Homo sapiens: one gene and its partners. The protein of the gene in region 1 binds, or shares a complex with, the protein of each later gene. Each region holds a gene or a part of one and is shown in the gene's direction. Other genes may lie near its edges.

The links. Proteins that work in one complex are often made in the same cells at the same time.
Region 2: RBM48 (region 1) and CWC15 share a complex: the UniProt entries of both Homo sapiens proteins name them as parts of the minor spliceosome.
Region 3: RBM48 (region 1) and SNIP1 share a complex: the UniProt entries of both Homo sapiens proteins name them as parts of the minor spliceosome.
Region 4: RBM48 (region 1) and CWC22 share a complex: the UniProt entries of both Homo sapiens proteins name them as parts of the minor spliceosome.

The regions. Positions count from the first base shown.
Region 1 is NC_000007.14:92,531,795-92,535,294, forward strand, and holds part of RBM48 (RNA-binding protein 48), read left to right. Parts: intron 1-609; coding exon 610-755; intron 756-2,443; exon of another isoform or gene 2,444-2,607; coding exon 2,608-3,176; coding exon of another isoform or gene 3,177-3,290; exon of another isoform or gene 3,291-3,500. UniProt on the Homo sapiens protein: As a component of the minor spliceosome, involved in the splicing of U12-type introns in pre-mRNAs.
Region 2 is NC_000011.10:94,963,557-94,967,056, reverse strand, and holds part of CWC15 (spliceosome-associated protein CWC15 homolog), read left to right. Parts: intron 1-643; coding exon 644-762; intron 763-3,500. UniProt on the Homo sapiens protein: Involved in pre-mRNA splicing as component of the spliceosome. Component of the PRP19-CDC5L complex that forms an integral part of the spliceosome and is required for activating pre-mRNA splicing.
Region 3 is NC_000001.11:37,540,794-37,544,293, reverse strand, and holds part of SNIP1 (smad nuclear-interacting protein 1), read left to right. Parts: intron 1-3,500. UniProt on the Homo sapiens protein: Required for pre-mRNA splicing as component of the spliceosome. As a component of the minor spliceosome, involved in the splicing of U12-type introns in pre-mRNAs. Down-regulates NF-kappa-B signaling by competing with RELA for CREBBP/EP300 binding.
Region 4 is NC_000002.12:179,948,298-179,951,797, reverse strand, and holds part of CWC22 (pre-mRNA-splicing factor CWC22 homolog), read left to right. Parts: intron 1-871; coding exon 872-973; intron 974-1,065; coding exon 1,066-1,286; intron 1,287-3,500. UniProt on the Homo sapiens protein: Required for pre-mRNA splicing as component of the spliceosome. As a component of the minor spliceosome, involved in the splicing of U12-type introns in pre-mRNAs. Promotes exon-junction complex (EJC) assembly.

The DNA.
Region 1 (3,500 bases):
AGCGCTTATGACATTGCCTGGCATATGGTGAAATCTCAACAAGTATTTATCATTATCCCTGGATATAGAAGTAGTTAAATTTATTGTAGTACCTGGCCAGTCATAGATGTTTAGTAAGTATTTATTGACTGAATAACATTCTTCTCATTTTCTCATTGTTATATATTTAATAGTTCCTCAGTTATTGAATGTTTTATGATTATAGTATCTTTCATCTGATTTTTAAGGCATGAATCCCATCACAGAAATACATAGTGCTGAAAAAGCTTAATTGGGTATGAACCAACTCTTCAGGGCCACAGAGAAAAGCTCCATTTTATGACCACAGTTTACATACTTCAGGCCAACCAGCTGGGTCCTTAGTTGTTTAAAGACTAGGGAACAAAGAGGCTCAAAGGGAAGGAAAGGGGAGGCTCTACGAGTACATACTCGATCAATGGGATGAATACTGTCCACAAGCAGAGCATCTTAATTCCCAATCCACAGGATATATATACACGTAGCAAAAGCTGGACTTTGCTCTTTAGATCCAGATATTGCATACTAGTTAAGCTTTCATCCCAAGTAAATCTAGATTAAAAAACTATGCTATCTTGTATTTCCATTCAGGACAGCCAAGAGAAAAATGGATGAACAGAGTTTCTTCGGTGGATTGCTTCATGTGTGCTATGCTCCAGAATTTGAAACAGTTGAAGAAACTAGAAAAAAACTACAAATGCGGAAGGCATATGTAGTAAAAACTACTGAAAATAAAGGTATGGAAAGCATATTGCTAAATGCCTCCTGTGTGTCAGGCACTCTGCCAGGTGTGTCATCATGCAATTCCCAGTCTAGTGGTAGGAGAGGCAAGTAAACCATCACAGTATTCAGTAACTGTGAACCACAGGGTTCTCTGCAGCACACTACATAATCTGGGTTGAGAAGGGAGAAATATTGGTTCATAGAAGACTTCCTATAGTATGTGAGAAGTGGCTGAATTTTAAAGGATAAGTAGACGTTAACTAAATGGGAGAGGAAAAGATGGAAAGGCAAGCCAGGCAAGATGTTTAAATGTTTAGAGGAATAAATGAGCATCATGCATTTAAGGAACTTTAATTAATACAGTATAACCAAAGCCCAAAGGTTTCAGTGAGAGATAAGTTTAGAAAAGTGGGTAAGAAGTGAATCATGGAGGGCCTTGTGTCCCATGCTAAGGAATTAAGGCTTTGACCAGAATGCAGTGAGAAGCAGTTATGATTTGCAGTTGTCAAATCATATAGTTGTCACTGCTAATCATGGAGAAGTTCTACTTTTGACCAGCAATTGGCTAAATGCCCCCACATGCCTGTTCTACCACATAGTGATGGAGAGAAATAAAGTGGGAAAACTCTTGGAAAACTTACTCAGAAATCTGGTAAGAGAGCTGTTGAGAATCCCCAGTCATCTGCAGACATTGAACTCTAACTTGTAAGATAAGTAAATAAATAGCACCAGGAAAACTTGTATGTTTGTGTGGCAAAGGAAATTATAAAATATTAATGTGGAGAAAGACCTTTGACATTATCTGACCTGGGTCCTAATTTTTCTGGGTGAGGAAACTAAGTCTCAGAAAGTTTGTGACCTGCCTATATTATTAGAGATGAATTAAAGACAAAATAAGGGTTAAAACCCAAGCTTTGGACTCTGTCCAGAGTTTACTTTTTAACTGCTTTAATCATCTCAGTGTTGGTGACAGCCTAGGATTATCTTCATTATTTGCTCCCCTTCCTCTTAAGACCTTTTTGCTGTGCTGCTGACCTCAGAATTAAACTATGACTTGTTTGGCCTTGGACACTTTAGTTAAGCTCTCTTTCATCTGCAGCATTCTAGCCTCTACAAGATGCATTTGTATACGTGGTCTTACTTTTCAAAAACTCTTATTATGGAAATTTCAAAACACACAGGCAGAGAGACTAAGTTAACATAACTCCCATGTATTAATATTAACATTAACAATCATCAACACATAGCCAATTTCATCTTTACCACATCTTCCATACTCCATTCCTGTTGTAATCTGCTTTTGGGAGAGTAAACCAGGGAAGAGGCCCTTGCCAGCCCTAGAAGTGCGACAAGCATATTGCTTTCTTTAGTGACTAACAAACACAAGCCAAGGAGCATGATACATCCAGATAGTGGAATACTCTGAAATTGTAAAAAAAAAAAAAAAAAAAAAACCTTTCTATATAATGATGAAAAACCTCTGTAAGATCTACAGTGAAATGGAAAATGCAGAGGTGCAGAGAAATGCGTATTACAGGTTATCTTAAAGTGGGGAGAAAATGGGAGGAAGGAGGTGGCAAAGTGAGACATATTGAACAGATAAATAAAAAACAATAGTGATTACTTATGGGGATGAAACCAGACCCATGGAGAGCAAGGAAAGGGTGACACTTGATGCTATATATCTTTTTATCCGTTTTAGGTTTTAAACCATGTGAATATATACCCTTCTCAAGAAATGATTTTTTTGGAGTAGAATTTGTTAACATTTTTAAGTGATTTTTTTAAATTATATGATTCTGAATGATGAAAACAATAAACCACTTCTGTTTCCCTTTCCCTCAACTTTTAAATTGTAATATAAAGACCATTACGTGACAAAGAAGAAATTGGTTACAGAGCATAAAGACACAGAGGATTTTAGACAAGACTTCCACTCAGAGATGTCTGGATTTTGTAAAGCTGCTTTGAACACTTCTGCAGGGAACTCAAATCCTTATCTTCCGTATTCCTGTGAATTGCCTTTATGTTATTTCTCCTCAAAATGTATGTGTTCATCCGGGGGACCTGTAGACAGAGCACCAGACTCCTCTAAGGATGGTAGAAACCATCATAAAACAATGGGGCATTATAACCACAATGACTCTTTGCGGAAAACACAGATAAACTCTTTGAAAAACTCAGTGGCCTGCCCTGGTGCACAAAAGGCTATTACGTCTTCAGAGGCAGTTGACAGATTTATGCCTAGGACAACACAACTGCAGGAGCGCAAAAGAAGAAGAGAAGATGATCGTAAACTTGGAACTTTTCTTCAAACAAACCCAACTGGTAATGAGATTATGATTGGACCTCTGTTACCAGACATCTCTAAAGTGGATATGCACGATGACTCATTGAATACAACGGCGAATTTAATTCGGCATAAACTTAAAGAGGTAAGGTTATTTTTAAAAAACTATTCTAAGACACGATTTGGTTATAGGATTAAATGGAGAATTATTTGTGGGAACAATAGTACTGTAATTTTTTTTCACTTTTTAGTGTTTTGATGTGTTTTTCTACAGTTCTCTGTTGAAATAACTGAATTTGGCTAACATTTTATTTGCTTTAAACTGTTAATACTTGCTTTAAACAATGAACAGACATTTTATATCACTGTAGATACAAAATATTAAAGCAGTGGTTTCAGCCAATTAAATCAATCTGTGAGAGTGGAGCCCAGGCCTGCCATTTTTGTTAAAAGCTCCCCAGGTAGTTCT
Region 2 (3,500 bases), on another chromosome or scaffold:
AAAAAGAAAAACTCAGTAAGACAATAAAAACAAAATAGATCAACCTCAGGTAAATTAGTAGAAATTCATGTTAACTGGATATAATTTTGTATATGGTAGTTTGTCCTATTTTAGGAGTTACTTCTTCATTCATAACTTGTCACCAAACCTAGAGACACAAGTTTACATTATTAGTAATTCAAAATAAGATTAAAATTAATCACAGTTAGGTATGACCCTTTAAAATGAAGGTAATAGTTTTGCTAAATGTGTCTTTTTGATATTCAATATGTTCTTAAATTATTAGAATATGCTTATTGATATATGCTTAAAATTTAAAGCAATTAATTTGACATGTACTTCAAGAAAGAAAATAGATTTAAATATGGATCTGTAGCATTTCACAGTTGGAAGAGACTAATTACTGTATGATATCAACCATGAAATATTTATAATAAAAATGCTAAATTATTTTATTTTGATGAGGGAGACTTTTCTAGTATGCCTCAAAAACCAAAAAAAAAAAAAAAAAGCCTGCCTTGATGCTTTTGTTGCCATAAAATCCTAATGATCAGTTTTGTTTTTTTTTTCAGTGAGCTAATATAAAAAAAATTGAACCCAGAGTTAAAATAAGTAAGTGTTAATCTTCCTTTATCATTGACAGGAACAAGAACAAAAAGCTGAAGAAGAGAGGATTCGTATGGAAAACATTCTGAGCGGAAACCCTCTCCTTAATCTCACTGGCCCATCCCAGCCTCAGGCCAACTTCAAAGTTAAAAGAAGGTACTATACAGTAACGGAGTAATGGAGTGTGTGTGTGTGTGTGTGTGTGTGTGTGTGTGTGTGTGTGTATATGTGTATGTGTATACACACAGGCATGCAGATTATAAGTTGGATAGCAAGGTGCATTGTAAAAAGCTTCTAAAAGTCCACCGTCCATTCACTGATACTCTTCTCTGTTCAATTAGGAATAATGGAAGAAGCCAAATGAAAGAAAATAAACTTATTTTCAATAGATAGTTGCAATAACCAGCTGTGTACTAGATAATGATGTAAGCACTAGGGACAGAGTAATAAACTGAGGCCCTTACATTTTAGGTGTGCATATCAAGGGTCCTCAAGATGGCCTCTCACATTCAGACACTCACTAGAAGAACTCAGGGGACTTGGTGTATAGTTAATATGCTTGGCTAAGGTAATAAAGACACACAGCTAGATTATAAAGGGAAAAGACACACACAGAGAATAGAGGAATCCATGTGCAGGTGTCACTATGCTCTGTCCCTTCCATGAGTGGTCACACAGCACATTGTTTCCCCCAGCAAGGACAGTGCAGCAACGTGTGCAGTGCTTCTGCCCAGGGAAGCCCATTAAAGATCCCGCGCCCAAGGTTTTTACTGGGAGTGGCTAGTCATGTACGCAGCTTTTGCTTAGCACATACCAAAGTCCAGACTCCTAAAAGGATAGTAGGTGTTCAGTGTAAACCACATTATTTGTAAATTATAGGCACAGTGACAGAAGATTTCTTAGATCCAAATTTTCAAATGCCAGCCAGGGGCCAGCCTTGCAAGCAGGCATTTCTAAGGATTGTAGTACTAGGCCTGCTTTTTAAATTCTGTACAGTGTGTGTGTGTTTGGAGGGGTAAAAAAGGAGGGCTGAAAAGGGAGAAAATATAAGTTGTAAATACTGTAAATCCTTCAGATGGTGATATATAAAATAAAACAGAAAAGCTTACAGGAAATGCTGAGGGAGGAAGATTGGTTGTTATTTTATATGCATTCGTCAAGGAACCACAGTGCTTAATTTTTAAACCATATTCGTTATTTTTCACCACCTCTACTGCTGTTATCTGCCATCTGGAGTGATGCAGTACTGCTGACTGCTTTCCCTTCTGGAGTGATGCAGTACTGCTACCTGCCCTCCTCTCTGGAGTGATGCAGTACTGCTGAATGCTTTCCCCTCTGGAGTGATGCATTACTGCTACCTGCCCTCCCCTTTGGAGTGATGTAGTACTGCTGACCGCTTTCCCCTCTGGAGTGATGCAGTACTGCTGACTGCTCTCCCCTCTGGAGTGATGCAGTACTCCTGATACAGTTCGGGAATTAGTCCAAGCTGGAGATAGTAGATTTGGAAGTTATCAGCTCAGATAAACTTTTTAAAGCCATAAGACAGGATGAAGTCACCTAGGGAAGGGTATAGCTAGAGAGGAGAAGTCAGAACTGAGCTTGGTATGTTTAGAGGTTAGGTAGATTATTAGTTACCAGTACCTGTTCTAATCATCTAGCCAGCCTCTAAACATTATACAAGTGCCTGATAAATATTGATTGAGTTAATTTTGAATGAAAAAGTCTAGGCTAACAAGGAGCAGCCAGTTGGGAAGGGAGGAGAACTGAAAGAAGTGAAACAAAGTGTTTCAGGAGGAGAGGAGTGATCATCGAGGACAAATACTAATGTCAGGAAAGAGCATTTTGGTGTTGGGAAGGAGGGACAAAAAGCCTGTTTGGAGTTGAGGAAAGACTGGATACAGAAAAAACTGTACTGATTATATACAAAAATAAAGCTATATAGTTTGTTCTTTTGCCTTTTTTGAATGTAAATGGAATTGGAGATAGAAACATGTCTTATATCCCAGTCATATTGATCTGCTCAGCTTGTTATGCTTCTGTGTACTGCATCAGTGATGACTTTACTGCACTGTTTTCCAAAGGTGCCCACGTTTGTTGCTCATTGTGCACTTTCCCACATTTGTTCCCATGTGCAGTTTCTCCTGACGTGTAAGCGCATGCACACATAAACACACACATATGGGCTTGTGTTATATATATATTTGTGAGGGTATCAATATTATGTATATGGGCCTGTGTTTTATATGCTAGGTGATATTCTGAAATCATGCTCTTTATTTTCTATAACACATGTATTTTATAACTTATTTATGGGTGTTTTTTTTTCGTGCTTATACATTATGGAATCCAACCAGAGTTCTGCTCTGAGCTCTTCAGCTGGTACTTCTCCTTGGTTAATGTATATGTGGGCCATATCTGAGCCTTAATTATTATACCCCAATGATTCCTTCTCCTTTTGTTGGCCTATAATGTGGATATTACAGTAGATGATTACTAAACATTAACTGATAAAAGAGGAATATCTACAATCCCCAAAACCACATAAACTACATTAAATTGATTGGCTACTATCATGTACAGATGCCTACACTAATATTAGGGTAGTCCTCGGTGCTGCTTCTTTCTATTAGACCTAAAAACATTAAATATTTATGCAATTAAAATCTATATATTTCTATTTTTTAACTCAAAAGTTTCTTTTACTGGAGAAATAATAAGAATGTTTTAATGTTCTAAGTAGGAATTGCCATTCTTGCTATAAGAAAGCAAGATTATATATTAAGGATGACATTATTCTTTTGAGTGTAATTGCTGCATCAGATGATACACATGTTGAGCATCTTTCTGTGTAACTGACTAAGCCTTGCAGTGCATGTAGTATTCTTGTCTCCTGA
Region 3 (3,500 bases), on another chromosome or scaffold:
TTTGTATTTTTAGTACAGACAGGGTTTCACCATCTTGGCCAGGCTGGTCTTGAACTCCTGACCTTGTGATCCACCCACCTCAGCCTCCCAAAGTGCTAGGATTGCAGGCGTGAGCCACTTCGCCCGGCCTCTTGTTTCTTTTTTTTTTTTGAGACGGAGTCTCTCTTTGTCGTTCAGGCTACAATGCAGTGGCTCCATCTCTGTTCACTGCAACCTCCACTTCTGGGTTCAAGTGATTCTCCTGCCTCAGCCTCCCGAGTAGCTGGATTACAGGCATGCGCTACCACACCTGGCTAATTTTTGCATTTTTAGTAGAGACGGTTTCACCATGTTGACCAGGCTGGTCTTGAACTCCTGACCGACCTCAAGTGACCTGCCCCCCCCCTTGCCCTCCCAAAGTGCTGGGATTACAGGCGTGAGCCACCATGCCCAGCCTATAAGACTTGTTTCTGCTGCCTCTCATGCTCAGTGGCTTGTTTCCATTTCCTTGTGTGTGTCTAGTATTCTTTAGTATTTGAGCTTATGCTTAGGGCTCAAATCTTTTTTTTTTTTTTACCCCCCTTTGGAGATTTTTTTTCTCATTGGAGATTTTGCCTTGCTTATTGAAAGCCCAACAGTGCATTAAAAATTTAATAAGTATCTAGTTAAATTATAGTGGGAACATCTCTCCAAGTAGCTCATCTGCCAAGTCTATATATAGAAATATGTGGTCTTATTGTGAAACTTGCCCCTTCTCTTTTTTCCCCTCCCATTTAACAATATATTAGATATCTTTCTATGTCATTATCTCATTCTTTTTCATGGCTGTGAAGTATTCCTTTGTATGAATAGATAATAATTTAACCATTCTACCATTGCAGGACATTAGGTTGTTTCCAGTTTTTTTTTTAAATTACGAAATTACAGTAAACACATTCATATGTATGTCTTTGTGCGTTTCTGCTAGTATTTCTGTAGGATTGATTTCTATAAGTGGCATTAGTGGTTGATGAGATTTTGATTAAATAATGTCAAATTGACCTAAATAGGCTATGCTAGTTTATACCTGTACCAGCAGTGGCTGAAAATACCCATTTTTCCTGTACCTTCTTTTTTGACTCTAGATATTATTGATCTTTTTAATTTTACTAATTAAGGAGAGAAAATTCATATTTCTTTTAGAATTTGATGCTTTGGTTATTAGGGTAAGCATATCTTCATGTATTTATTGGACATGTAATTCTTTTTTTTTTTTTTTCAAGACAGGGTCTCTGTTGCCAAGGCTGGACTGCAGTGGTATGATCATAGCTCACTTCAGCCTCGACCTCCTGGGCTCAAGTGATCATCCCACCTCAAATTCCGAAATAGCTGAGATTACAGGTGCATGCTGTCGTGCCTGGCTAATTTTTGTATTTTTTGTAGAAATGGGGTTTTGCCATGTTGCCCTGAGCTTAAGCAGTTCTCCTGCCTTGGCTTCCCAAAGTGCTGGGATTACAGGCGTGACCCACTGTGCCCGGCCCTTGGACATTTATTTCTTCTGAAAATTGTTCATTTTTCTGTTCTTTTTTTATTTTTGAGACAGAGTCTTGCTCTGTCATCCAGGCTGTAGTGCAGTGGTGGAATCTTGGCTTACTGCAATCTCTGCCTCCCAGGCTCAAGCGATCCTCCCACCTCAGCTTTCCGAGTAGCTGGGACTACAGGCATGCACCACTGTGCCCAGCTAATTTTTGTATTTTTAGTAGAGACAGAGTTTCGCCATGTTGCCCAGGCTGGTCTCAAATTCCTGGGCTCAAGCGATCCATCGCCTTGGCCTCCCAAAGTGCTGGGATTACAAGTGTGAGCCACTGGCACCTGACCATTTATCAGTTTCTCTGTTGAATTATTTCTTATTGATATATTAATATGCAGTAGTCTCCCCTTATCTGTGGTTTCACTTTCTGCATCTGAAAATATTAAATGGAAAACTCCAGAAAAAAACAACTCATAAAATTTAAATTGGTCACTATCCTGAGTCACTTGGTATAAACTTCTGCTGTCCCACCAGGAACGTGAATCCTTCCTTTGTCTGGTGTATCTGTGCTGTATGCGCTACCTGCCTGTCCATCACTTAGTAGCCATCCTGATTTTCAGAAAACTGTTGCAGTTTGCAGTGCTTGGATTCAAGTAACCTTTATTTTATTTAGTAGTGGCCCCAAAATGCAATAGTAGTGATTTTGGCAATTAGGAATGCTAAAGAGAAGCTGTAAAGTGCTTCCTTTAAACGAAAAGTTGAAAGTTCTCAACTTAAAGAAATTAAAACAAAAAAAAACTTTTCAAATCATATATTGAAGTTGCTAAGATCGATAGTAAGAATGAATCTTCTATTGTGAAATTGTGGAGAAGGAAAAAGAAATTCATGCTAGTTTTGCTGTTGTACCTCATACTGTAAAAGTTATAGCCACAGTTCACAAGTGCTTAGTTAAGATGGAAAAGGCATTACATTTATGGGTGGAAGACATGAACAGAAATGTGTTGCATTTGATGGCAGTCAGGTTCGGTACTATCCGTGGTTTCAGCCATCCACCATACTTAAAATGTATCCCCCTGGGACTACTGTATGGTTTGTGTTGCAAACATTTTCTACCAGGCTGAATTTTTTTTTTTTTTTTTTTTGAGAAGGAGTTTCACTCTTGTTGCCCAGGCTGGAGTGTAATGGCGTGATCTCGGCTCACTGCAACCTCTGCCTCCCAGGTTCAAGCGATTCTCCTGCCTTAGCCTCCTGAGTAGCTAGGATTACAGGCATGTGCCACCACACCTGGCTAATTTTGTATTTTTAGTAGAGACAGGGTTTCATCATGTTGGTCAGGCTGGTCTGGAACTCCTGACCTCAGGTGATCCACCCGCCTCGGTCTCCCAAAGTGCTGGGATTACAGGCTTGAGCCACCATGCCTGGCCTAGGCTGATTTTCATTGCTATCTTTTTCAAGAAATCATGGTATGTTTCTCCATTTCTTCACATCTTTAAAAAACATTTATTTTAATGAATTTTTACAGATTTCTTCTTATATGTCTTTCATGTTTCTTAAGTTTATTTCTAGGTATTGAATTTTTTTTTTAACTATGGAAGTAGGATTTAAAAACTTACTATTATATTTTCACTTTTGGCATGAGAGAAAGCTAGTTTCTTTCTTTACATATCTTGTACCTGACTACTTAACTCTTAGTTCTATTTTCTGTATATTCTTCCCTGTAAGTTTGCCCATAGTTACCTTTGTTCTGAAAAGGAGGGAATTATTTTTCCTTCTCCTTTCTGGACTAAATAGTCTCTTGTTTTTAGGGCTGTGGACCTGGACTTGTGCTATTAGGGCTATAGTTGAATAGCAGCATGGGATATCATCTTTGTGGCCTTGCGAGGGAACATAACCACCAGACATAATCTTATTTCTGTGGGAAATGTTGTTCTAAATGCCAAAGTCCAAATTACAAGACTTTTTGCATGCACTTCGTTCAAAAAGAACAAGATTTGGGCTGCCTTTAGATTGT
Region 4 (3,500 bases), on another chromosome or scaffold:
CAGTGTTCCTGGGTTCCACACACTGTCTCTGGACTATTCCATCCACTTCTCTTGGCTTCATATACTTACTTATTTGGTCCCTGTCTACTTGACCAGGCTCGTCTTCTCTCTCTTCAGCAAGCTGCACTCCAGCCATACCAACACTGCCAAGCTTGTTAAACATATCTGGCTCTTTCATGCTTCCTTACCTCAGTTTCCACTGCTGGCATTCTCCTGTCTTATTGATCTATCTGGGAAACTCTTAATCATTCTTCTTATATTGTACCTTTTTCTGTGAGAAAGTTTTTTCTGACTCCACTGAGTAGTTACTCAGTGTGGTGCTGAAAACCAAATGTCCAAAACCACCTTGTATTGTTAGTGTCTTTCTGGTTGTCTCACTCCATATATATTGTAATTATATGGTCTTCATCCTTGATTTCTCCCTTTTGTTGATGACTTCCACCTCTCCCCCAGTACTTGGCACAGTTCTATGTATGTGTGTGTACGTGTACATACACAACAGAGAAGGTTTTTAAAATTTTTTGTACATATATTCACTATATATACGTGTGTGTATATATATACACTATATATATTCACACGTGTATATATGTGTATATATTTATCTTTCTATATGTGTGTGTGTAAAAAAAGTTTTTTAAAAACCTCCTACATTGTATAATGATAGAAATCAAGTTTGGTACATTATTACTTGACCCTACTCATTTCATTTAGATAGCACGTAGCCTAACCTAATAAATGACATCAACTAGTTACTTGGTTGTATTTCATTTAGTAATTTAATATATGAAAAATCTGAAAAATGACTAAGGATTTTACCTTTTTATCTTTAAGCAATGTGTTCTCTTTTGTTTATTTTTTTCCTTTTTAGAACTCTGCAGCCATTCTTTGAAGGATTATTACCCCGAGATAATCCAAGAAACACTCGGTTTGCCATCAACTTCTTTACTTCTATAGGTCTTGGAGGTTTAACGTAAGGATTATTCTCAGAATTTATGTTCAGATTATAAAATTATCTCATAATTGTCTTTGAAATAGAATCTAACAGATTATATTTTAAATTAGGGATGAACTGCGGGAGCATCTCAAAAATACACCAAAGGTCATTGTGGCGCAGAAACCAGATGTTGAGCAAAATAAATCCTCCCCATCCTCTTCCTCTTCAGCGTCCTCCTCTTCAGAGTCTGACTCATCCGACTCTGATTCTGACAGCAGTGATAGCAGTTCAGAGTCTTCCAGTGAAGAGAGCGACTCTTCATCCATCAGTAGTCATAGCTCTGCCTCAGGTATTGAAGCTTATGTGTAATTTGGCTTGCTCTTTTCTAATAAATATGTTGCTGATATATATGAAGGAAGAAAATAATTTGATTGTTTATTTGTCTTAGAGATCAGTTGTTTAAAAGCCACAATTAATACAAATGGTCCCATCTATCATTCTTGCAGTCTGTAATACAACATTTATAATGCTGGGATTACCTTTTGACATCCTCATCATAGAAATGAAAATATTTCATTCGCAGATACTTATCTGAGTGATGACTGATATGAACCATCCATTCATAATGTTTGTAATCTAGTTTATAGGAGCTATCCTGATGTTTTTATTTTAAATAAATTTTAGTTTTTTACTTTTAATATTAAAGCTGTTTGTAATTGAGATATATCATACATTCATTGTGGATCTCAGATGCTATATGAATTTTTATAAAGGGAACACATCCTCATAGCTAGCACACAAATCAAGATATACCGGTACCCCAGAAGTTCTCTGTGTTTCCTCTCCCAGTTACTACTCCTTCCATCCTCATGGCAGCTACTATTCTGATTTGTAATTTCATAAATTAATTGTGCCTGTTTTTACCTTTAGCATTATGTATTATGGACTCCTTTTTATGTCTGGCTTATTTTTTTACCATTATGTTTGTGAGATTTAGATGCATTACTGCATTTAGTTATAGTTAATTCAGTAATATTGCTATGTAGTTTCCTACTATATGAATATACCACAATATATATTTATCATTTTTGCTCAACAGACTTTAGATTTTCAAGTGATATTTCCATGTATATTCTTGTACATATCTTTTGATGACCTTATTTATTTATTCACATTTCTACTGGGTATGTACCTATAGGTGGAGTCAGTGTGTCATAAGATGTGCATATATTTAGCTTTGGTGAATACTGTCAGTTTTCCAAGTGGTTATTCCTATTTACACTCCCACCGGCCATGTATAAGAGTTTCATTAGCTCCCATTCTCATTAATACTTCAAATTGACCGTCTTTTTCATTTCAGCCATTCTGGTGGATGTGTAATGGTACTGCATGGCGGTTTTAGTTTTAATTTGCATTTCAACTAGAGAAGTTAAATGCCATTTTATCCATTATTGGCCATTTGGATTTTTGTTGTCAAGTGGCTGTTCAAGTATTTTACCAATTTTTTTTAGTTAAGTTGTTTTCTCTGTTGATTTGTAGGTTTTCTTTACATATTCTAGATATGATATCTTTTGTACATATATGTATTGCAAATAACCAGTCCCATTCTTGTCTCTCTAGCCCTGCAAGGCTACCAGACCTCTGGTGTCTCTGTCCCTCAGTAGCATCCCTGAATCAGCAGATGCTCCCAGGGAGAAAGTAGCTGTAGAACATCACTTACTTCTCAATGTTTCTGCTTTCTCCTGCATCTTGGCCCCTCTAGTACTTGTTTTTCCACTAGCTCTCTGATGCCTTTATATTTTTTACTTTGTAACTGTAACCTTTTATTCTGAGCTAATTTTAGATTTAGGAAAGTTGCAAAAACAGTACAGAGAATTTCCATATACTCTTCATTCCAACTTCCCCTAATGGTAGCATCTTACATAACACTGGTTCATTTATCAAACTAGGAAATTAGCATTGGAACAGCATTATTGACTAGACTACAGATGTGATTTGAAAACCAGTTTTACCACTAATGTCGTTTTTCTTATTTCAGGATTCTGCTAGCATTTAATTGTATTCTCAGTTTTCTGCATTCTATGATAGTTCCTCTCGGGCTTTCCTTGTTCTTAATAGCTTTAACACTTTTGAAGTCCTCTGGTCACTTATTTTGTAACCTGTCCCTCAGTATGGAGTTTCGTCTGATGTTTTCTCCTTATTAGAATGAGATTAGACATTTTTGGCAAGAGTACATTAGAAACAATGTGTTGTTCTTAGTGCATCTTATCAAGAGGTTCATAATTTTATTTTGGGTGACAACCTTGATCACTTGAGTAAGGTGGTGTCCACTGGATGTCTTCAGGGAAACTATTTTTCTCTGTGAAAATGTCTTGTAGGGAGGTAACTTGATACTATGCAAATCTCTTTTTCCTCCAGCTTTTACTCACTAATTTTAACATCCATCTTTGGATGGTTAAAAAATCACCTAATGGTGATTTTTTATTTGTCTGTTTTCTTCTACATCTAGTAATTGAATTTCTTCTATAAGAAAGTATTGTCCCTCTTCCCTCATTTATTTATT